Linked DNA regions of Homo sapiens. The protein of the gene in region 4 purifies or fractionates together with the protein of the main gene of each other region. This does not show direct contact. Each region holds a gene or a part of one and is shown on either strand. Other genes may lie near its edges. The genes, in order: USP30, NCK2, NCK1 and LRFN4.

The links.
Region 1: the proteins of LRFN4 (region 4) and USP30 purify together in Homo sapiens (affinity purification with mass spectrometry; 2 studies listed by BioGRID and IntAct, with this or other methods). This does not show direct contact.
Region 2: the proteins of LRFN4 (region 4) and NCK2 purify together in Homo sapiens (co-immunoprecipitation; 4 studies listed by BioGRID and IntAct, with this or other methods). This does not show direct contact.
Region 3: the proteins of LRFN4 (region 4) and NCK1 purify together in Homo sapiens (co-immunoprecipitation; 3 studies listed by BioGRID and IntAct, with this or other methods). This does not show direct contact.

The regions. Positions count from the first base shown.
Region 1 is NC_000012.12:109,069,551-109,076,600, forward strand, and holds part of USP30 (ubiquitin carboxyl-terminal hydrolase 30), read left to right. Parts: intron 1-2,061; coding exon 2,062-2,160; intron 2,161-2,754; coding exon 2,755-2,800; intron 2,801-3,887; coding exon 3,888-3,982; intron 3,983-7,050. UniProt on the Homo sapiens protein: Deubiquitinating enzyme tethered to the mitochondrial outer membrane that acts as a key inhibitor of mitophagy by counteracting the action of parkin (PRKN): hydrolyzes ubiquitin attached by parkin on target proteins, such as RHOT1/MIRO1 and TOMM20, thereby blocking parkin's ability to drive mitophagy.
Region 2 is NC_000002.12:105,880,879-105,887,928, reverse strand, and holds part of NCK2 (cytoplasmic protein NCK2), read right to left. Parts: intron 6,602-7,050; coding exon 5,880-6,601; intron 1-5,879. UniProt on the Homo sapiens protein: Adapter protein which associates with tyrosine-phosphorylated growth factor receptors or their cellular substrates. Maintains low levels of EIF2S1 phosphorylation by promoting its dephosphorylation by PP1.
Region 3 is NC_000003.12:136,949,208-136,952,106, reverse strand, and holds the end of NCK1 (SH2/SH3 adapter protein NCK1), read right to left. Parts: 3' UTR 501-2,899; downstream 1-500. UniProt on the Homo sapiens protein: Adapter protein which associates with tyrosine-phosphorylated growth factor receptors, such as KDR and PDGFRB, or their cellular substrates. Maintains low levels of EIF2S1 phosphorylation by promoting its dephosphorylation by PP1.
Region 4 is NC_000011.10:66,853,079-66,860,113, reverse strand, and holds the start of LRFN4 (leucine-rich repeat and fibronectin type-III domain-containing protein 4 precursor), read right to left. Parts: upstream 3,051-7,035; 5' UTR 2,370-3,050; coding exon 1,021-2,369; intron 478-1,020; coding exon 1-477. Other genes in the region: PC (pyruvate carboxylase, mitochondrial precursor), read left to right, coding at 6,731-6,875. UniProt on the Homo sapiens protein: Promotes neurite outgrowth in hippocampal neurons. May play a role in redistributing DLG4 to the cell periphery.

The DNA.
Region 1 (7,050 bases), on a different chromosome or scaffold from region 4:
ATTTATTGAATGCCTGCCTGGGGTGGGGACTGTCGAGGGCAATGGAGTCGTAGCAGCAGACATGACTTGCAGGAGTTTCCTGCTCTCTTAGAGCTGGTATTCCAGTGGGGGATGAGGATAGCAGGCAGGGGTCGGTGCAGACAGTAAGCAGGGGATTTCAGGATATGCTAACAAGAAACTAGCTGGTGTAACATGGCATGGATAGGGAGGGCAGAGGAGGAGGAGCCAAGCTACAGGGGGAGACTGCTCCAGGTAGGGAGGCTCCTCTCAGGAGGTGAGGTTTCAGCGGAGACCGGAAGTATAAAAGAGAGTGAAGTGTGTGGACACCTGGGTACAGAGCATTCCAGACAGATGAAGAAGCTAGGGTATAAGTCTGGAGATGGTTATAAAGCTGCCACCTGTGGAGAATGGCAGGGAGGCCAGGGCGGGGAGGGCGGTGGAGGAGAGGGGCTGGCGAAGTTGGCAGGGAGCAGATTGTGCAGGGACTAGGAGGCTGCGGGCGGCATCAGCTTCTATTGTGTTTGCAGCGGGGAGCCACTAGAGGACTTTGAACTGGGGACTGGTTTGATCTGACTTGTTAGAAAAGGAAGGCTGGAGGGGCAAGAATGCAAGCCGAGAGGAAAGGTGGGAGGCCGCTGCAGTTATCTGGCCGAGATGGTGTGGCTCAGACTGGGGTCGAAGCAGGGTAGCTGAGAGTCCTCAGGAATTTAGGGCGTATTTTGGAGGAGGGTCCTTTTTTCAGGACTGCTGCTGAATTGGCTGAGGGTGGGTTAGAGTTCAGAGGGGTGGAGGCAGCTTTGGATAATTGGTTGGGGAGTATGCCCTGTGGAGGAGCTCTTTTGGCAGAGACCTGAAGGATAGGAGGTAGCCGTGCGAAGGTCTGAGCACAGCCCGAAATGGGAATAAGCTGGATATGTTCAAGGAACAGCAAAGAGGCCAGGGGCCGGGACATTGTGAATGTTGGGGGCTTTGTAGGCCAGATAAGAATGGTAGGTTTTACTCTAGTAGTGGAAGCCATTGGAAAGCTAAAAGCAGAAGAGTAAAGCTATCTGCCTTTTAAAGTATTGCTCTGGTGGCAGTGTGAGGGGACACCAAAGGAGAAGCAGAGGGCCTGTGTTGTGACCCCGTTACTCCCGGAAGAGTGAGGGGTGGCTTGGGTTTTTGGGGAGAGAGCCATTTGAGTTGATCCTTCAAGAGTAGTCCCATGCCATTGGATCCAGCAACCCCGCTGCTGGGTACAAACCAAAAGAATTCAAAGCAGGGACTCAGTAGGGTATTTGTATACTCAGGTTAATAGCAGCATGTTCGCAATAGCCAAGGGGTAGAAGCAACCCAAGTGTTCATCGGCTGATAAATAGGTAAACAAAACTTTCATACAATGGAATATTATTCAGCCTTAAAAAGGAAGGAAATTCTGCAGTATGCTACAACATAGGTGAAGCTTGAAGACGTTATGCCGAGGAAAATAAGCCAGTCACAAAGACCAACACTGTATGATTCCACTTGTGTGAGGTTCCCAGAGTAATCAGATTCCTAGAGAGATAAAGAATGGTGGGTGCCAGGGGTTGGGGAAGGGGAAATGGGAAATCAGTGTTTAACAGATATGGAGTTTCAGCTGGGGAAGATGAGAAAGTTCTGAAGATGGATGGCAGTGATGATTGTACAACAACATGAATGTACTTAATGCCACAGAATCATTCATGTTAAGATGATAAATGTTATGATATGTGTATTTTACCACAATTAACAAAAAACATAATCTTTTGAAATCGGAGTGGAGGTCAAGGCTGTCTCAGTGAAACAGAATGGTCTCATAGACTGCTGGCGTGAAGGCAGCCACCTGGCTTTCTCTCCTGCTCTCTGCTCCTGGACCTCTTGCTTGAGGGTCTTCACTCGTGACAGTGTCCAGGACATAACTGTTTTCTTTAATGAGCTGGGCCTTGAGAAGGTAGAAAGCAAATTCTACCCACATTCACTGTAGGGTGTCTGCCCGAGGTGGGTAGTTCTGATCTTGCTCTTGCCTCTTCCAACCTCTCTAAAGAATGCTTTGCCCTATGACAGGATGCTCACGAATTATTCCATGTCATTACCTCGTCATTGGAAGATGAGCGAGACCGCCAGCCTCGGGTCACACATTTGTTTGATGTGCATTCCCTGGAGGTAAACCATTAATATTTCCAACACGTTCTGTGCAGCTTGTGCATATTTAATAAGTATAGGGGAGGCAAGTGTAATCTTTGTACAACTTTAAAAGTAAGATTCAGTAAAAATCAGTGGTGGGAATGAGGCCAGGGGAGGGTCTTAAAACTACATGCTTTGCAGTTGGTGATCTGATTAGGGATGTCAAGGCTCTTTCAAATGATTCATTGCTGCAATTTGTGTTGGCTTTGAGAATAAAGAATGTGTTATTTTTTCCTGTTTAATACAGGGGAACAGGGGCCATAGGAATGCTAAGTGAGCCCTCATTTCCCTGTAACAGTATAAATATCGGAGGAGTTGACAAAAGTTAACCAGTAAGGATGAAAATATTCTGGAGAGAAGAAATATGTTTCTATTGCATTTGATGAAAGAATATTCATAGTATCCAGCCAGATAGGCTAATTGAGGCTACCTTTAGAAACCTGAGCTTTGTTAAAAGTTGATTTTTAGTGGTGTAATCAACGTAGAAACTTGTAAGGTTTAGGGGTGGGGTGAGGGTGGTGAAAGGGATTATAGTAAGGTTTTCAGTCTGTTTTTTTTTTTTCTCCCCTACAGCAGCAGTCAGAAATAACTCCCAAACAAATTACCTGCCGCACAAGAGGTAGCTGTTTTCCATTGAAATATAACACATAAGATGTGGACTTTTAAGATATGATAATAATTTGCTTGTTTTAAAAAGATTTTTTTCTGGTGACATACAGGCCAGCTTGAAGTGTGATGTGCTTGCAAAGGAACTTGTATTTTGGAAATAGCTTTAAATAGATTCTCTTGGTGTTCCCTTGCACCCCAGCCCAGCTGACTTTTCTTGAAACTGGCTTATTTGTACTTCAAACAAGGGCTTTCTTTTTACCTTTTTGAATTGATCCTGGGAAGAACATAATGAGCTGAATCTGTCGTGTCCTCAGCATTTCCAGTGCTGCCAAATTCTATTGCATATTACCACAGTCATCCTTAGGAGGAAATTGTTGTTTTCTTAAGACTTAAAAAATAAGATTAGCATATTAATTCCTCTGTGTAGTAATAGGAACAAATATTTTTTGAGCCCATGCTGTTTGCCAGGCATTGCATTATCTCATTTAAGCCTCATAACAACTCTACAAAGTTGATGATACTGGAGTTAATGGGATAATAACTATCCCAATTTTCCGCACACTGAGGCTTGTAGAGATTAAAGGCATTCCCAGGTCAGGTAGTGAATAAGAAGCACAGCCAGAGCTGATCCCTGGGCTGCACAACTCCAGAGCCCAGGTTTCTCACTTATGTTCTTTCCATTAAACCCCATTCTAGCCAAAGAAAGGCCTAGTTATTCAGAACTTGCTTATTCTGTTTATTTCAGAAGATTTTATCTCGCTTTATGGAATGTTCACTTGTGGTATCCTTCTTTTGACATCTCAAACATTTTAAGCATATGTTTGTAAAAAGACATTATTCAACACAAATTCCTTTTTAAAATGTGGCTCTACCCATTATACAGAAACCGTATATAAAGATAGATCTGTGTAAATTCTCCTATGAAGGAATGGGATGTCTTTTGGATGGAAGTCAATGAGGAAAGCTATTTCAATGTACTTTTCAAGAATATTTTTTCTTAAGAGGTAGTTTCTACCACATGCTAGAAAGGAAGATGAATGTTGAGCTTGGTGCCAAAGGGCTAAAAGTGACATATCAAAAAACTTTTTGCATTCCAGGGTCACCTCACCCTACATCCAATCACTGGAAGTCTCAACATCCTTTTCATGGAAGACTCACTAGTAATATGGTCTGCAAACACTGTGAACACCAGGTAAATACAATACCAACACTTGATATTTCCGGGAGAGGTTTTCCAAAAGTTAGGATTCTTGAAAGGACCTAGAGAGTGGGCTGACATCGGTCACTGGTGTTAGAGACTACCTGGCCTCTGCACACTAGTGGACTGACTACCCCACTTTGGTCAGTGTCAGCATGTCATTTGAGGTCAGATGGCATCTTCTGCACCAAGGACAACAGACCCACTGTGGATTGGCAGGCTCTTGAGTCCAGTGGTTGAGTCTATGCTCATGGTGGACACAGTAGATTCTAGGGCTGGTTTTTTCCCCTTTACTTTTGAGGTTTTAAAATAATATTTTATTATGGAAAATTTCCAACATCATACAAAAAGAGAGAATTGTACAACTGTCACCCCAATCCATTTTATTTTATTTTATTTTTTCACAGCCATTACTGACTCCGGGATCAGTCAACTTTATAACATTTTCATTGCCCCCTAAAGAAACTCCATACTCATTAGCAACCTCTCCCCATCCTTTCCATCACCCTACCCTTGTCAACCATGAATCTACCTCTGTCTCTATGGATTTGCATATTCTGGATGCTTCATATAAATGGAATCATGTAATGTGTGGCTTTTTGTGTCTGGCTTCTTTCATTTAGCATAATATTTCCACGTTTCTTCCATATTTTGGCATGAATCAGTACTTTGTTCCTTTTATTACCAAATAATATTGCATTACATGGATCTACAACATTTTTATCCATTCATCAGTTGATGGGCATTTGGATTGTTAACACTTTTTGGCCATTATGAATAATGTTGCTGTGAACATTTACATACAAGTTTTTGTGTGGACATATATTTTCACTTCAGTTGGGTATATACCTCAGAGTAGAATTGCTAGCTTATATGGTAACTCTTTTGTTTAACCTTTTAAGGAACTGCCAGACTGTTTTCCAAAGTGGCTATGCCATTTTTCATTCCCACCGGCAGTGTATGAGGGGTTCCAATTTCTTCACAGCCTCACCCACATTTTGATGTCAGCCCACTCTCTAGGTCCTGTCTAACATTGAGGTTCTAGCCATCCTACTGAGTGCAAAGTAGTATCTCACTGTGGCTTTTTCCCCCAGTTTTATTGAGATCTAATCGACAATAAAAATTGTATATATTTAGGGTGTACAAAGTGAAGATTTGATGTATGACTGTGTGTGTGTGTGTGCACGTGCACCTGTGCTCATATGTGGTGAGAACACTCTCTTAGTATATTTCAAGAATACAATACAGTATTATTAACTGTAGTCACCATGCTGTACGTTAACTCTCCAGAACTTATTCGTCTTATAACTGAAGGTTTGCATCTTTGAGCAACATCTCCCCACCTCCCCAGCCCCTGGCAGCCAGCATGTACTCTGCTTCTGTGAGTTTGACTTTTCTAGATTCCATATAGGTATGAGATCAGGTGGTGTTTATCTTTCTATATCTGGCTTATTTCACATAGCAGATGTCCTCCAGGTTCATCCATGTTGTCACAGATGGTAGGACTTCCTTTTTGATGGCTGAATAATATTCCATTATATGTGTATACCACATTTTCTCATTCATCTGTCTGTGGACATTCCATATCTTGGCTATTGTGAATAATGCTACAATGAAGATTGTTTTGCAGATGTATCTTTGAGATACTGATTTCATTTCCTCTGGATATATACCTAGGAGTGGCATTGCTAGTTCATATAATAGTTCTATTCTTAACTTTTTGAGGAACCTTCATACTGTTTTCCATTTACATTCCCACCAACAGTATGCAAGAGTTGCCTTCTCTCCACACCCTCGGCAACACTTGTTACGTGCTGTCTTTTTTTTTCAGACAGAGTCTCGCTCTGCTGCACCCAAACTAGAGTGCAGTGGTGCCATCTTGGCTCACTGCAACCTCCGTCTCTTGGGTTCAAGCAATTCTCCCACCACAGTCTCCCAAGTAGCTGGGATTACAGGCACCCGCCAACACACCCAGCTAATCTTTTGTATTTTTAGTAGAGATCGGGTTTCACCATATTGGCCAGGCTGGTCTTGAACTCCCAACCTCAAGTGATCCGCCTGTCTCGGCCTCCCAAAGTGCTGGGATTAAGGCATGAGCCACTGTGCCTGACCACATGCTGTCATTTTGGTAATAGCCATCCTAACAGGTGTGCGGTGATAGCTCTTTATGGTTTTATTTGCATTTCCCTGATGATTAGTGATATTGAGTGCCTTTTCATATACCCACTGGCCATTTGTATGTCTTTTTTTTGCAAAGTGTCTGTTCAGCTCCTTTGCCCATTTTTTAATCATGTTACTTTTTCTTTTTTTTTTTTTTTTTGCTGTTGGTCCATATGAGTTCCTTATAAACACTCTTTTAGTGTATTTCAAGTATTCAATTTTGGATATTAACCTCTTATCAGATATATGGTTTGCTAATATTTTCTTTCATTCCATATGTTGCCTTTTCATTTTGTTGATTGTTTCATTTGCTGTGTCATTGCGGTTCTGAGTGACATTACCTTGAAGACTAATATGTTGAATGGTCTTTTTAAAAATAAGGTTCATATATTAAAAGATATGTAAGATATGTTAAGGAACTGTAATCTATAAGTTGACTATTCATCTCTTTTTTCCGTGCATTATTTTGATACTATTGTAAGTGGAATTTAAAAAAATTTATTTTCAAATTGTTTGCCACTAGTATATAGACATACAGCTGTTTATATATTGACCTTATATCTTGAGATTTTTGTAAACATTCATTTATTACTTCTAGAAGCTGTAGAAGTTTTGTTATGTATTCCTTAGCATTCTCTGTGTATGCAAACAGTCATGTTGCTTATGAATAGAAATAGTTTTAGTTCTTCCTTTCCAACCCAATCTTTATTCCTTTTTTTTTTTTTTCTTTGCCTTATTATCCTGGCTAAGACTTATGGTACAAAGTTAAATAAGAGTGATGATGGCAGACATCTTTGCTTTGTTTCAAATCTTCTGAAGCAAGTATTTGGTGTTTTATAATTAAGTATGATATTAGCTTTAGGTTTTAGTATACCTCTTTATCATACTGACAAACTTCCCTT
Region 2 (7,050 bases), on a different chromosome or scaffold from region 4:
TCTTTGCAATTTGTGCTCGCGATAAGTGGGTACTTTTAGAAAAGAACAGTAGAGAGCACACTCTTTGATCCCATCTCTATGGCTTTGCCAGCTTGATCCATTGCCTCAAATACTTGCTGAAAAGCACCTTTGCAGTTTTATAAAACAGATGTCCTGATCAGATACGCCTCTCCCTCTCTCAAGATTTAATCATTGTTTTCTCATAGAAGGAAAAAAATGAATGCCGAGGACAGACTTTAATATCCTTTATTTCCTCCTCCATTCCTGAAAGCTTATGTATTAATGCGATTTTCTTCTAAGCACAATAGTCATGAGGAAACGGGAGGGAGGGGCCTTGCTCCAGGTACTTTTGGTTCTTTAAACCTTAAAACTTCTCCTTATCTTTCACTTTGGACTTTATGAAATGATGAGGGTAGAAATGCCCTTTGTGTGATTCACCAGGCCTTCCACACAGACCCTGGACTGATCTCCAGCCACGCTGAAGTCTCCAAGCATCAATAATCTACACATCTCCTTCTACCCCCAGAGAGAGGTCACCCTGTTGGTTTCTTATCACAAGTTGTATCATTCTTTTCTTTTGGTAAAGACATGTTTTTCCCCTTTTACTTCTTTACAGAAGGCACTCTTCTGTCCACAGAAGTGGTTCATTTACCTCCCAAAAGTGAGAACAAATGGGTTAGAGGCAAATCGTGATCCACTGATTAATAGTTTCTCTGTTTTTATCTCAGAAAAACTGCCTTTCAGTTTTACCATTCTATTTGGTCACCTGCCCTAGTTGTCTAAGGTAGCCTTCTTTTAATAAAAATTACTCCTGCCTATACTTATGCTGCTAGCTGTCAGTTGACCCTATGTTCTTTGTTTTTACATCAGATTATCTCTTCCTTGCCCCAAGTGTGAAGAGTCTCACCAGCTTTTCCTATTCTCCTATCAATGTTCACTCTATAAAATATTTACTCCACAGGCCTGAAGCCAATCCACACTGACATGTTCAAATATTCATCTCATTAACTTTGGAAGTAATCTTATTTACATAAATGAAAAGTCAATCATCAACTACAGAGCAGCTGTCCAAGTCCCATCTACCTAATCTAGGCAAACGGAGCGTTCCCTGTCCACTTTCCAGTTAGTATGCATGTGTGTGGTTAGCCCTCCCTATCCCCAAATGTATTTCCTAAAGTCACATGTAATACCTCACCATATAGACCTGTAGAATATTGTCCTTGTTATTCTTTGTCTTTCCATAGTGTCATACCTGATGTGACTGAGTGATACATTTAAGTCAGAATTTTACCATATTACACAACAGTATGCAAAAGGGCTTGAATCAAGTGCATACTCCACAACGTAGTGGTTCTCAAATTGGCGCATCAGAATTATTCAGGAGTTCATAGGTTCTCAGGATTTGGAACAAAAAAAGGACTCAGAGGGCTTCTTCAAACCAAGGTTGCAGAGCCCTACCCCAGAGATTCGAAGTCAGCAAGCTGGGGCAATCTGCATTCTAGCAAGTTTGCTGGTGATGCTGGATGTTGTCTGTTTTAAAGGTCAGCATTGAAGAGCCAGCCAGAGTGAGAAGGCAGAGTCTTCAAGGGCTCTGGCCCATTTGAGAATCAGAATCAGGTGATGAGCACTAAACTTCCAGATAACAGCCTGTACTGCATGATCTTGCAGGCCTTTCCATCTTCAAGAGTTAAATATGCTTAAAATTAGAACTATTACAAAAATCCAGGCTTAAAACTTCCATTTGGTACTGGGCAAAAAGCCTGGCAATTAAAAATAACTTGTTATCTTTGAAACTGGAAAGATGCCTACAGGCACTGCTCACAGCAACCTAAGGTTAAGTCATCTTAACATTAACTCATTTATGAAGAAACACCATGGATCACGGAGCCTAACCATGAAACCCTGGAAGCAGCTTTCACATTGCTCTGACAATCTACCTCCTCCTAATTCATCAGCAGAAACACAGCAAATACAGCACGTTTATTTTCAAACTCTAAACAGTAAAAAACAAACAAACAAAAACACAAAAAAGCCCCCCAAAAAACTCAACAGAAATATACTTCAAGAGATAAATCCCACTCAACAAAAGCTTCAGTTCTAAATGAAGTTCAGCTTTATGACAATATTTTTATAATTCATGGAAATGTAGTATTATGCAGAAATGGTTTTAATAACAGCTGCAAGAATATATAAAACCACTAAGAATGCATCATAGGGATCAAGGGTTTTCAAAGTGTGGTCCCAAAAGCAGCAGCATCACCACCAAGAAACGTGCTATTAATAGAAATGCAAATTCTTGGGCCCCAGACCTCCTGAATCAGTACCATTTCAGGTAGGACCCAGCAATTTGTTTTAACAAGCTTCAAGGCAATTCTGATACACACTACATACAGTTAGAGAATCATTATTTAGAGAAATGGAATGATGAAATTGCCTGAAAATAGAGTTTTGGGTAAAAGTTATAATTTCTTTAAGAAATATTATAACTTTAAAAATACAGAAAGGAGCTATTCTATTTTATTTCCCAGCCAAATACTTTTCATATATTTTAAAAAAGAGAAATGAAACAAATATGTGCATTAAATTATCCTTAGCGAGACAGTTTTTCTCTACTGGAAAAAAAAGTACTGTATGACAAAAAATATTAGTATCTAATACTATTGCAGGACATAATAAATACATGATATCTTCGGGAACTAAAATCTTACAGAGGAAAATGGCCTCCCGCACTTGCAGGCCAGCTCTGCACCTTTTCCAACCATATCCTAGTTGTGATCTGTCATTTTCTGAACAAGCTTTACAAGGATGGGAGATGCAGCAATTAAGAAAATAAAATATTGACAACTTGTACAGTTTACCAGAAACCCAGTAAAGGGTTACTGTTCATTTTAAGTACAGCTTTCTAGCCACATCCATAGAATCAATGTGGACAAAATGTAATATAAAAGGATTTATAATGGACACACACAGGGTGAGTAGGATTTCTGAGTTTTCTGGATTTAAGCAGGTATGGCTCACAGGTGAAGGTATGATAACGAAATATGGAGAATAAGCAACAACAATGCATCACCTTTAGCTGCTAAGGATAAATGACAATTGTAGATGAGAGAGGAGAGCGAGGGAGGAGGAAGAAATGGAAGGACAAGCAGTAGGTACTGAAGTTCAGGACAGGAAAGAGGGTCCAAGAGGTTCGTTCGTTTGTTGGTTCACTGATTCATCTAACATATCCAACAGATACTTCTGAAATACCCAGCACTTACTGATAGTGGATAGTGTAGCATGTGGCAATGTTTGTCTTCCCTGAAATACGCACCCCTCAATATCGTCAAGCAAGGGTCTAGCTCATTTACACTGCAATCACTCAGGATATTTTATTGAAGATCCATTCCAAAAAAAACAGCTGTGCTTATCCAGAAGCCAGGCCTCATGTGATAACCTCAATTAAAGGCCCAGGCCCAAAGACTGCAAGAAAAAAAGGAAATTAAATAAAGATGCCTGACTGAGTCCTGCAGGGAGGCTGAACCCCTCAGAAACCTTTCCATCCTGGCATGCTGCGAAGGAATTATGTCAGATCATGAACCTAAGGGCTCTTGGTGGCCTAGTGGTGGCTGCGAAAGCCAGCTCTAACCTGAGAAATGCCAAAATGAGCAGGAAAACACATGGGGACGGGGGGAGGCAGTGGATGGTGGGAAAAAAACAAGCAAAGGACTTGTCCACTTGTCCACCAGGACAGGTCCCTGGTAGTCACAGATGACAGCTGAGAACGCCTTGGTTATGAACAGGAAATACAGCAAACCTGGCATGGTTCTGCTGTCAGGAGAAAAGAAGCCACACACACACCTCAGGGCTCTTGCAGAATCCCCATGGAACAAGGCATGCACACTAACAGCTGAAAATGGCCCGTGTCACGGCAAGATCCATCAGGACAAGCTGCCCTGCACAGCATCAGGCCACGTGGAACCTCAGACAAAGACGGTGCTGCTATGTGTGCAGAGCCGATGCAAGTCCCAGTAAAGCTCTTTCCGCCCTATATTCCTAGAATCATATATGTTGTTCCTTGACTTTCTAAGTTAGGAGAGAATGCAAAAAACCCTGAAAGGCCCCCATTAAAAAACTGTTAAAAGGAAATACAAACAATTCGTGCTTTAGTTCTTTAGAAAAAGTTAGCTCATTCTCTAACAATATAAGACAACTGAGACAGTGGGGTGCAGAGTTCTGAGATGAAACCCAGACAATGCATGCATCCCTCCTTATCCAAAGGGACTTGGTCCCTGAATTCAGACAGCAATGACCACCTGTGCATGTTCCACAGAAAAGCCATAGGTCCTCCCTAAGGCCAGCAACCCCGGAGAACACCTTTTTCATCTACCCTCTAAAGTCTTTCCTCTTTTCCCCAAATCTTAGGCAGAAAGAATAATGACTGGGACCAATGTCTCCACACTGCAGGACTTCCTTCTGAGAAGTCTCCTCAAACTCAAAAAATTTTAAGCCAAGATCATATTTTGTGCATTATACTTAGCCCTTAAGGACTCTGGACCAAGCACTTAATATTGTAATTGGTTTTCCAGCGCTTTCTCTAAGTTTCTGCTCGATTGAGTTAAAAGCGCTGCTGTCCTTAATTTGCTTAAGGCTTCAAACACGATCTAAAAGAAGTGGTGCACAGAGCTCTCGTCATGTGAGAACAATTCAATGTGATGTCTTGCCAGGAATGATAAACTCTGGTGACTTGATAAATCTCAGAGTTCAGATTTCAGATGAAGTTAGCTTTCAGCCTGGCATTCCCGTCCAAGCACATGTAAGGCTCCGCAAAATTGATGACACCATAAAGGAGTCCAGTTTCCACCACCACGATGCTCCGTCCTCAAAGAGAGCACATCCCAGTCGCCTCTCTCTGGAGGGCTTTGAATGCCTCTCTGATCAGTCAACAGGACCCTTGAATGAGCACTTATTCATTGTGCCAGTAATCTTTTCAGAGGACAGCAGTGGCAGCAGGTAGTACATACTTACTAGTCTTATAGCGTGCATTTAAAAATGAAATTGAAGCCTCCTAGAACCAATACAATTCAAATACATTAAACTCTATCTCCTAAATGCTTGTTTTGGAAGTCTCTCGATTGTAGAAGGTGTATTCGGAAAGACGTTTGCAAAACTGGTCGAGTATTTCCTTCACACACGAAAAGCCTGCCTTCTGGGATGCAGGCTTGACCCCATGCCTGAAACTCACCGCCCCCAGCCTGCCCACCGCTGAACTGGGTCTGCTGCCCCAGTCGAGTGGCCTCATATCTCCGACTCACTGCACACAAACAAAACTCATCTCTCCCAAGAACCCCTGTTTTCTTTTCAATTTATCTCGTAAGTGCTTTAAAAGCTTTTGAGAGATGAACTCAGTGGCGCTGCCTGCCGTGGCAATGACCTTGGGATTATATGGTTTACAAAGAGAAAGCAAGCAAACAACAAAAGGAGGTGTCAGAAACCAGCCACCAGTCTTGCAAAGAATGCTTTCTCTGGGACACAGACCGAATAGAAACAAAGTAAATCACTCGGGCCTTCTACGTACACAGAATGGGCAACCAGGAGAGAAAATGATGTTTGAGCCTGTGAAATACAAGAGGGGGAATCTTGGGAGAGAAGCAGAACCACCTCTGTGAGCTAAAAACATCTTTTTAGTTAATCTCCCACCTCCAGAAATGGACACCCACTATCCCCAAAACAGATGCAAGTAAATCACGGAGTAGCAAACATTATACTAAATTGCATTCATCTGCGTCTCCCGCTCTTTCTAGTGTACTCACACAATGTGAAAAGGGCGCGGCACACAGACCCACCGCGCAAGGCGCATTTACTGCCTGCAGCCGGAGCTGTGGGCGCAGCGCACTTACCGAGGACTCGCTGTCCCTAATGAGGAAGTCGCCCTCCACGCCCCGCTCGTTGAGGGCGCACTCGGCCTGGTGCCGCGTCACGTTCCCGTAGTACCACTCTCTGCCCGCGAAGCGCCCGCTGGACGAGGGCCCGGTGTAGCTTATCTGTGGGGCGTGCGCAGGGTGCAGGGCAGGCCCGTCACTGAGGACCACCACGTAGTTTTTGGGGACGAGGCCCACCTGGCCCCGGGCATTTTTGCATTTCCACCACTCGGGGTCGTTCTCCGGCTTCTCAATCACCTCCATGGTCTCCCCCTTCTCGAAGTTGAGCTCCTCCTCGGTGACTGAGCTGAAGGGGTACAGCGTCTGGACCACATGCAGCACGCGGGAGCCCTGGCCATTGCTCAGCGAGGCGCCCTTGCGCAGGCTCAGGAAGCTTGGGGACTCCGCAGCCGCCTCGTCCACCTCCTCCAAGACGTAGTTGGAGGGGAACCAGCCGATCTGCCCGTTGTAGCTGCCCCGCCACCAACCGTCGCTGCACTTCTCCATGACGGTGACGCGCGACCCCTTCACCAGGGACAACTCATCCTCCCGCTCGGCCACATAGGCGAACTTGACGAAGGCCGGGATGTTGAGGTCGTAGATGCGGTCGGCGCCGCTGCCATTGGCGGGGTACTCGGCGTCCGTGCTGGGCGTGGGGGACGCATCCCGCGCGCTGGTCTTCCTGCGCGTCTTGCCGAGGCCTGTGGAGACACAGCAAGGCTCAGTGGCGCAGGGCACTTGGGCACCACCACACTCCCTAGCCTACCGGGATTTCCACGCAGTTTCTCTGGCGGTTAAATACAAGGGGACGACACATGGACAGTGCTTACAAACTGTAATTACCATGAGAAAAATACGGTTGCTGGCAGCTGCCTCCTGTAGTTGCGAAGTTACTTAAAGTTGAGAATTAAATTGATCTATTTTATCCATAAAAACATGTCACAGGGCCAGCACAGTGGCTCACGCCTGGAATCCCAGCCTTTGAGAGGCCCAGGCGGGAAGATTGCTTGAGGCCAGGAGTCTGAGACCAGCCTAAGCAACATAGCGAGACCGTGTCTGCAAAAAAAAAAAAAAAAAAAAAAAAAAAAAAAATTAGCCACCTGTGGTGCACATCTGTGGCCCCAGCTACTGGAGAGGCTGAGGTGGGAGG
Region 3 (2,899 bases), on a different chromosome or scaffold from region 4:
CCATGTTATAGGAAAAACAGGGAGAGTAAACTGCATCTGGAGATCTCAACTAGGGGGATAAGGGTTGGGAGTGTGAAAGTTAATTATACAAATTGGGTAATTATTGTCATACCCAACCAAATCAGATTCAATGCATTAAGGGGAAAAAGTACATGAAGGACATAGCAGCTGCTCCAAGAACTCAGTTTTCCACAAGCCCAGCTACTTAAACAGACTACTGTAAACCCTAAGACCAGTTTTACCTAGTAGCTGCTGAAATGACCTGCTGTGACTCTAAGACTGGTTTTACCTATCACTGTCACACACCAATCAGAGCTTGCCACCTCCCAAAAACTTATCTAGAACCAATGAGTTTTCTTTCAAAACATACGTAACATTTCTCTTTATAATAAAACTCCCCATCTTCTCTGTTCTTTAGACATACCAAAAACTACTGTCTGTGTATATGCCCTGAATTACAATTCTTGCTTCCCAAATAAAACGTTTCAGAGATTCGTCTCTATATTTTGACTTGAAAGAAGACTTTATTATACTGTTTGAATTTTTTCACCATGTGCACTGGTAAAGATAAGAGGACCATCCATATTAGATTCCAGCTCATTGTTGACTTGTGGGAATTCAACTCATGTTATTAGCTTCTCATTTTTAAAGGGAAACAAGAAGTCTGAATTTTATGTGAAACTCCCTGATTTTTAAATGTTGGCAATTAATTTTTTAAAGCACTGTGTGGGTTGAACAACATTTCTGTATAAGGCCACTGTGTTTAGATGTACCCTGAAGAAGGTACCCCAGCAACAAGGTGGGAGTGAAATTCAAACTTCTAGAGAAGGGCTGGGCCTGCCTAGAGAATTCTCACAAACGTGCTACAGAGACTGTGACAACTCTGCTTCTATGCAACCTCTGGATTATATGGTAGGACATTACAGCTGGAGATAATTTAAGTGCCATATTCTGCAAGAATGACCTTATTCTAACAACCCAAGTTGCCCATCTGCTAGGCCTATTTATTCTTCTAGCAATGGCAATAGATTGCATGAAGCCTATTTTGTTTAGCAGTATTATTTGTCACTAATAGTGCAAGGTGCATGTGTTAACTGTATAGTGATATATGTGTAATATACATGTGTGAATATATATTCAGCTGAATCCTAAGGTTTTATGACTAAATAAGGGACACAATGGCATTTGTTTTTGTCACAAAGCTTATATCATGTTCTAAAAAACCTTCTAAGATTTTGGGGAAGTTATTTGTAGAAGTGAGTTAGGCAGGGTTCCATCTGACACATGTATTTAAATTTGAAACTAAGCATTCTCCTCATGTGGAAGAAAACTTCTGTAATATTGCCCTTCCCAGGACTCTCCTCCTAGTCTAAAACCAAGCATACACAGAGTAGTGTGTCACGATACAGACACCAGGCTGGGAATAAGGAAACTTGGTTTCTTATACAAGTATTGTTACTATCTAGCTATGTAGAGTTTTCCAGGGTTGTTTCAGTTCTTAAAGTTACTTCAAGTATTATAAAAACAGTCACTGGTATAAGCATTGGATTAAGACTTTTTAAAAATTGGTAAAATATTTAAGTACAAAATAAGTAGCTTCCAGCGAGGTTTTTATACCATAGTAAGAGCACACAATAGATATTACTAGCACACATGGGTTATCTGGGAGCGCTATAGCTACAATAAACCTAATTATGGAACAGAAATTTGCATTCTGTTTCCAGTGCTACTACACTCCTACTTTCTCAAAAGTCTGCTCTATTAATATCAGCTCAGTGCAGTTTACTATGAATAGTTTATGTCTGTGATGCAAAGCATTAATTGTTCTCTTTTTACAAACATACATTTTTTTCATAAGGAAGACTGGGGGAAAACCCAGAAACATACAGAGAAAAGGAAAGCATCATCAAATATATGTTAAAAATTAAGATGATGTTTACTACTAGTCATCCTACAACAATTTAAAGTTTTCCTCAATTTATATTCATTTGATTTTACAGCAAAGATAAGCATACATGATTTTTATTTCCATTAAAAACTTAACTACTAATAATTACCCTCAACAAAGGAGTACTGAGTTAGAAAAATAATAGAATATGAACTAAAATGTTTTAAAAGCAGATGTAATAGAGATGAAAATTTGTCTTAATTATATTTGGTCACTTCTGTTGCTTAGTGGGAGAAGCCATGGCTGCCACCCAGTGGCAACATAAGTCTTTAAATGATTTTAAGATTTAAATAATATTTAAAACATTGATAAAAAAAATTCACAAGTTACACAACTTCAATTTTACCATCAGTAATTCTGGCGTATTAGATATCTATTTATAACAGCAAAGAATTAAAACATCCATATGCTTAGGCAGCATTAGGGAATTTGTTGAAAGTATCATACGACATCCTACTCAGTTATGTGGCTTTAGTATTTTTCAATTAAAATACTGATGGCTACTTTACTTAAATTTAAATCTCCAGAATAATAGGGGGACAAATTATGACCATAAAATACAACTGGTTTTCTTCTATAGCCTACAGAAGCAGATTGGCCTCTTATCCATACACCCAAATTCCTACTTGGTTAAAAAACAAATTAAAAAATTAAAAATAATATAATTTTCCCTAACCATGAGCACATTCTATTTTTTCCTCAGGTATACATCAGTTTTAGTGTCCCAATCAACAAAACTTAAAGCTGAAAAGAGGAAATGAAAATAGGTAATACCATTCCTGACAATTACTGATATTTAGTGAGGAGAAAAAAACAAGTATCTCACTGCTTCCTGTTTTTGCAAAACTTGGCCATAACTTATTTCCCACTGGCATAAATATAACATGTCCTAATACAAGATGCTCTAGAGGTAAAATAATACAAGTGGGATTAAAAAAATAAATAACACTA
Region 4 (7,035 bases):
TGGCTCCGTCGGGCCCAAGCTCCTCCCAGGCGCCTGGCATAACCGTAGCACCCGGCATCTCCCAGGTCCAGAGAGCAGCTGCGCTGCGGCCGGGGCGGGGGGCTCCGCGGCGGGTGGGCCTTGGGTGTGGGGCTGGGGCCTCCATTGGTCTGGGACTGGACGTGGCTGAGCTTGAGGGGGAGGCGGCCATTTCCGGCCCCCCGGCCCCGAACCAGCAAGGCCACAGTGAAGACCAGTAAGGCAGCCACCAGCACACCCCCCACGGCCACGGTCAGGGTCCCGCCCAGCACGTGGGCCTGCAGGGCGTGGCACAGGGGCGAGGCCGGCAGCGTGGAGAAATGGGCACAGCCCAGCAGCCTGGTGGCCGTGAGGTCAGAGGGCCCAGCGGCCGGTGACAAGGCCAGCAGGCAGAGGTCATAGTCAGCGCCGGGGACGAGGTGCTTCAGCAGGAAGTGGTGGCTGGAGGCTGGGACAATCCTGCAGGCAAGGGCAGGTGGTCAGAGCCCGGGGCTGGGGTCTAGCCCCATCCTCACCTCCCCACTCCCGTGCTCCCAGCTCCAAACACCCCTCCCCCTGGGGCCACTCGGGCTCTTGGGTTCACTCAGGAAGGTGAACAGGCTGGAGAGTGTGGCCAGGAGATGGGTGTGTGCACTGGCACAGGACGCAGGCAAGCGAGGGGAATGGGGTGGGGGGATGGCACCAGCAGAGGCAGAAATAACACGCGGGCGCGGGCCATGTGCTTCAGACAGACCCAACCGCCACCTGCTGCCGGGGAGGCCTGCACAGCTCAGTGACACCTGGGACATCTCGGGGTGGGGTCCTTCTGCCGCCCCTTGAGCTCCAGCCCCCTCAGGCAGCCAGGCCAGGCCAGGCCACTGCTCCTCCAAGAGTCCAGCAGCCATGGTCGGGGAGGGGGTGTCAGCCCCAGAGAGAGGAGGGGTGGAAGCAAAGCCTTGTGGGGAGCAGAGGGCGGAGGAAGGGCGCCGGGAGTGCAGCCGGGTGTGGGGCACGCATCCTCACCGGTAGATGAGGGTCTCATCTTCGCTGCTGTTGTACTGGATTTGGAACATCCACACTGGGTCGGCTGGCCGCCCGGGACCCCAGCTCACCAGCCCTGAGGTGGCGGTCACCTCCGTCACCTGCACGGCTGGCTCAGACTCCAGCGTCCCCTCACCCTCGGCAGCAGTGCGAGCGGAGGCGGCGATGTCCGAGGGCCCGGGGCGGCCCCCCTCGGCACTGCTGTTCCCACCATGGGGCAAGGCCAGCACCCGCAGTTCTACTCGGGCTGTGGCCTCACCAGCAGGGTTGGTGGCGATGCAGGTGTAGCCCCCAGCGTCCCCAGCGCCGGTCACCCCAATCTCTAAGGTCCCGTTGGGGAAAGCCCGGGCTCGGGAGGAGTTGCCAACCAACCGGTCGTCAGGACCGACCCAGTGCATGGTAGGCGCGGGGTCACCCAGGGCCCGGCACCGCAGCGTGGCCCGCTGGCCTTCCAGCACCCAGAGGCGCTGCGTGTGGCGGGCAATGAGGGGCGGCTCACAGGAGAACTCGCCCTCGGGCACTGCCCAGAAGTAGCGGCCGGCCAGGCCGGGCGGGGAGGCGCACGTTTCCAGGTCGTCCGGCCGCGCCAGCCGCCGCAGCCACAGCAGCTCACAGTTGCAGTGCAGGGGGTTCCCGCTAAAGCTCAGCACCAGGGGGGCGGGAGAGGCCTCTGCATCACGCCCACGAGAGAAAAGCGGGTCCGGAGCCAGCGTGGCCAGGCGGTTGGAGGTGAGGTCCAGGCGGGAGAGCTGACCGAGCTGGGCGAAGGCGCCTGGGGGCAGTGCGTCAATAAGGTTATGGTCCAGGTTGAGGGTGTGCAGGGCAGGCATGGCGCCGATGCCGGCCCAGGGCACCTGCCGGAGGTTGTTGTAGGACAGGTCCAGGTCCTCCAGGCTCTCTAGGAAGTCGTCGAAGGCTCCCGGCGCGATGCGGCCCAGCTGGTTGCCGCTGAGGATGAGGTGCTGCAGATTGACGGGGCCCCGGAGGCTCCCGGTGCCCAGCTCCACCAGCCTGTTGCCGTCAAGGTGGAGGGAACGCAGGCTCTCGAGGTCCCCAAAGGCGCGGGCCCCAATGCGGGTGATGGCATTGCGAGACAGTGTCAGGTCCACCAGTCCCGTCATGTTGCGGAAGTCAGGGGGCCCCAGGGCCTGGATGAAGTTGTCAGCCAGCCGCAGCTCCACTGTGCGCCGGTCCACGTTGGGCGGCACAAACAGCAGGCCTCGGTGGGCACAGAGGGTGCTGAGCGACTCGGACAGGTTCTGGCAGACGCAGGGCAGCGGGCAGGCGGCCGCTCCACTGGCCAGCAGCAGCAGCAGGAGCGGCGGGGCCATGGTGAGCGCCCTGTAGGAAGGGGCCACAGCCCAGGCACAGGTGGGGCTGGCGCAGGTGCCCACTTGGGCCCAGGACAGTCCCAGAAGCCAGCTTCTGTGAGCCTGGCCCGGGGAGGGGCTGGGTCAGAGGCCCAAGAGGGCCGCCAGAGATGAGGGAAGGTTGGGGCCTGCAGGGCCAGGCCCCCCAGAGCAAAGGTCACATTTCCCAAGCAGTTAAGGGGGAGTCCAGGCGCTGGGGACAAGGTGAGGCATGAGGCAGGAAGCGGAGGAGGACCGAGAGCAGGGAGGGTCCCGGAACTTCCTTTCCCAGGCGTCCCCAGGAATCGCCAGCCGCCTCCCCACTCCCCGCCATACCCTCCCCCGCCAGAGAAGGCGCCCCCCGAACCTCCCGTGGAGTCCGTGGCCCCTCCCTGGCCGGCCCCCGCGCTGCGCCCGGCGGCCCCCTCACCTGGTGTCCGTCGCTCAGGGGGCGCGGGCCGGCCTCCCTGCGAGCCCGGCCGGCCCCCGCCGACTCCTGGCCGCTCTCCCGCGGGGACGAGGCCCGGGGATGACCGGCCGCCCGCCGCCCACCCTCGGGCCCATGGCGCTCGGGCCCGCGGCCCCGGCTCGCTCGGTTCCCGGCACCTTTTCCCGGCGCGGTTAGCGGTGGCGGCGGCGACAGGCGAGCGGGTGCGCGCCGGCGGGCGCGCGCGCCGCGGACACGCACGTGGAGGGCGGACGGGGAGGGGCGCGCGGGGATCCACCCGGGCCCGGGCCGGCTCCTGAGGTCACGGGGACACGCGGCCGCTGCAGCGCCCACGGGTGGCGCCCAGTCACGCCCGAGGCCCGGGCCGGCGCGGGCCCTCCGCGCTGTCCCCCGGCGCTGCCGCAGCGCACTCACCCTGGCACAGGCGCGCGCGCCCCCGGCCATCCTGGCGCCCCGGCATCCTGCACCGCACGGGCGCCCGCCGCCGCGGCGCGAACCTCACTCTGCAGACAGCCAGACAAAGCGCCTGCTCGCGGGCCCCTTCACCATCTCCCGGAGACGGGCGTCTTTGTCACATGTCGCTGGGCACCCTCCCCAACACACCCACACATGCCCACACACCCACACGTCCCTGCACCCACGGGCAGGGCCGAGCGCAAACCCGCACTGTTGCTGGGACCCTTGCGTTCACAGACACACGCTGAAGGTCATAACCGTTCTGCATCACCGAGTCACGTGGAGGGTCCCCAACCGGCACGGGGTTCGGCCGTGGGGGGGGCTGGGGCGGCGCCCCTGGCAGGGCTGCTGCGGGGTGGGGCCGAGAGGGCTTGGCCTCCGGGCAGGCGCCCCGCCCCCGCCGCCCCGCCCTGTCCCCAGCTGCCTCTCGCCTCTCCCTCCCTCCCCAGCTGCCCCGCCCGCCCCGCGGGCCAGGCGTTCCGGAGCCAACCGGCCTCCGCCTCGGGCCGGATTGGTCTGCGCGGCGCGGCTTCCCAACCGCCGGGGGCACGCATTGGGAAGCTGTGCGTCCTCGCAGCGCCTGCGGCCCCTCCCTCCCGCTCTGTCGCCGCCGGGCCATTTCCCTGGAAGAGCGGCTCGGAACCAGCTCCTCTCAGAGAAAGGGCTCCCGGCGTGAGGTGGGGGAGGTTCTTTGCTTCCTGGTTGAGAAAGCTGGGGCTTCGGTGGCTCGGCGAGCCTGGTTTCCTTCCAGCTGTGCCCGCCACCACCAGTGGTCTGCCCAGTTGGGAAACAGGAAGTCACCACCTCCCCGTGTCTCCTGGTCCTTAAGCCACCTAAACCTCAGCCATCCTCGTTCTCCCTCCAGCCCTGATCCCCATGGGCCAGGTGGCAGGAAACTCGGGGAAACCCAAGATTGGAATTCTGATCCTGTCAGCACAGCAGTGTAGTCCTGGGCACGTTACCTGACCACTGAAAACAAGTTCCTCCTGTAGGCCAGGAGAGTTGGATGGTACATACATAAGCATTTCCTAGGGGCGAGAGGGGAGGACAGCTGCAGCTTGTGAGGGGCTTACAGGCAGCCAGAAGCCATTCTGTCACCACTCACTGGGCCTCAGCTGTGGCGTTTGTAAAATGAGGGGGATTCAGTCCTGGTGCAGGTCAACTCTGATGTGCAGTGGCACCAGCTATGTCTTTGTTCCTCTTCTCCCCATCAAAAATGTTTTCCACCGGGTGCAGTGGTTCATGCCTGTAATCCCAGCAGTTTGGGAGGCCGAGGCGGGTGGATCACTTGAGGCCAGGAGTTCCAGACCAGCCTGGCAAACATGGCGAAACCCCATCTCTATTAAAAATACAAAAATTAGCCGGGCGTGGTACCGCATGTCTGTTGGGATGAGGCACGAGAATCGCATTAACCAGGGAGCCACAGGTTGCAGTGAGCTGAGATTGTGCCACTGAATTCCAGCCTGGGCGACACACTTTGTCTCAAAAAAAAAGTTTTCATTCACTCTAAATATAGATGTTTACCAGCATCCACCATGGCCACCCAGTGCTGGGAGCCGGGTTCATCAGGAACCAGATGGGCCTGGTTCCTGCCCCCATAGAGCTTACAGTATGGAGGAGAGGATGGGCAACCCGACAGTCACAAAGGGGAGACTCAGTGGGGACCCTCCACATGACTCGGTGATGCAGAACGGTTATGACCTTCAGCGTGTGTCTGTGAACACAAGGGTCCCAGCAACAGTGTGGGTCTGCGCTCAGCCCTGCCCGTGCAGGTTCCTCAGCGGCCTGCTGGAAAGGTGAGCATCAGCTCTGCCGAGGGTGTGAGGACAGGGCGAAGGCCTCCAAGGGTCCTTCTCACTCTGCGCGCTCGGGGCTCTTTGGATGGTTTCATTAGCTGCCTCCCTTCTCCAGTGCCATGCCTTGGCCCAGCTGAAATGTCAGCATCTCTTCAGGAGAGGCAGGGGCGAGGCTCAGGGGCAGACAGGCACAGCACTGCTGGCGGGGTCCCACTCTGTGGTGAGCACCTGACAGGCTGGTGGGGGAGGCACCCTTCCTGTCCAGGCCTCCAGGTAATAGGAGCCTAAGAGACGGAGAGCTCAGAGGAGTCTGGGTGGCCTTGAGTCCCTGTTGAAGGTGCCGACAGGGATCATGAATAAGTGACGCGTGGAGGTGTTTTCTTCGCGGTGGAAGCCAGGGCTGTCGCTACACAGCCACAGGCCATGCTTTCACAGGTCTTGGAGCACCTGTCACAGTGCTGGCTCGCATGTCCCCGTTTAAGTCATACTCACCCTGGCCCAGCCTCATGTTGTCACCCAGGCATTTAATGAGTGGAACCGAGGGCCCCTGTGCACAAAGTGCACTGACACATGCCTCAGGCAGCACCCTGCCCCCAAGGGTTCCCAGGCAGACAAGCAGAGGATGAAGCCGATGGGTGTGCTTGCCCACAGCGGGTTCCTCAGGGGACTGCTGGAAAGGTGAGTGTCAGCTCTGCCGAGGGTGTGAGGACAGGGCGAAGGCCCTTGAGAAGTTCAGGGAGAGCTTCCCAGGCAGGTGCAAAGGTGTGGAGCGCAAGGCAAGTTTGATGTGGCTGGAGGTGGCCACAATGAGGAAGGCGGTGGAGGGTGTGGCCTGGAGATGGAGAAGAGGTCACAAGGTCCCAAAATGGCCGTGGTCGAATCCTCTGGCTTGACCAGTGGCATGGGAGGAGTGGGTGATGAGGGTGATGGGATGCAGGTTTTGGTAACTGGGGGGACAGTGGGGCACCCACTGGGCACAGGAGGACTGGGTGCATAGGCAGGAAGCTGGCCGTGGACTTGCTGAACTTATGCGAGGGGTGAACAAGGAAAGGCCCGGGAGGCAGTTGCACCTCTGGGTCTTGCCCTGGAGGCAGAGCCTGTCACTGGCGCCACAGCCCCGGGACGGGGCCTCCTGGGGAGCATGTGGTGTGTGAGGAGCTGGGGAGGAAGAGGACAGGAGAGCAAGATGGCTTGGAAGCCCAGGGAACGAGCAGCAAGGCGGGAGCATGCCCGCTGGACTCAGCTGGGAGGAGTGACTTAGAGTGCCAGAGTGTGGTCTGTTGCGGTCAAGGCCCTCTTTCGAGAAGCGTGGACGAGGGGCAAGGGTGACTGCTGTGGGCCACGCTGCTGGAGAAAAAGGCTGAGCCCTGTTCTAGGCTGCGGGGAGGCAGGAAGGGTGGCCTTCAGCACATGCTTTGGTGTAAACAAGTATGGAGGGAGCAGGCCCAGCCCGTGACAGCTTAGGGGGCTCTGCTGGAGTGAGGAGAGGGCTGAGGGACGGGGAAGTGCCCCTCTGCAGGGAGGCCCAGAAGCTGTGCTGGCCCAGGGCAGCATCTTCAGCCTTTTCTCTTTCAGCCTTTTCTCCTCTGCCTTCCCTGTCTGTGCTGCATGGTGACCCCCTCCCACCCGCCTCTGTCCTGCAGACCAACATCGCCTTCCTGCAGAATGTGCTCAACAACCAGCAGTTCCTGGCAGGCACTGTGGACACCCAGTTCATCGACGAGAACCCAGAGCTGTTCCAGCTGCGGCCTGCACAGAACCGGGCCCAAAAGCTGTTGCACTACCTCGGTCTGGCCCGAGACTGCCCTGCCCTGCCCTCCCCTCCCCTCCGCTCTCCAATCTCTTGCTCCTACCTCCTTGCCACTCCCCATGACCAAAGAACTCCTTAGTGCCCCCTGCCCCTCACCCCTGCCCTCATTCTGGCCCTGCGTCCTCTTGTCCTGCACCC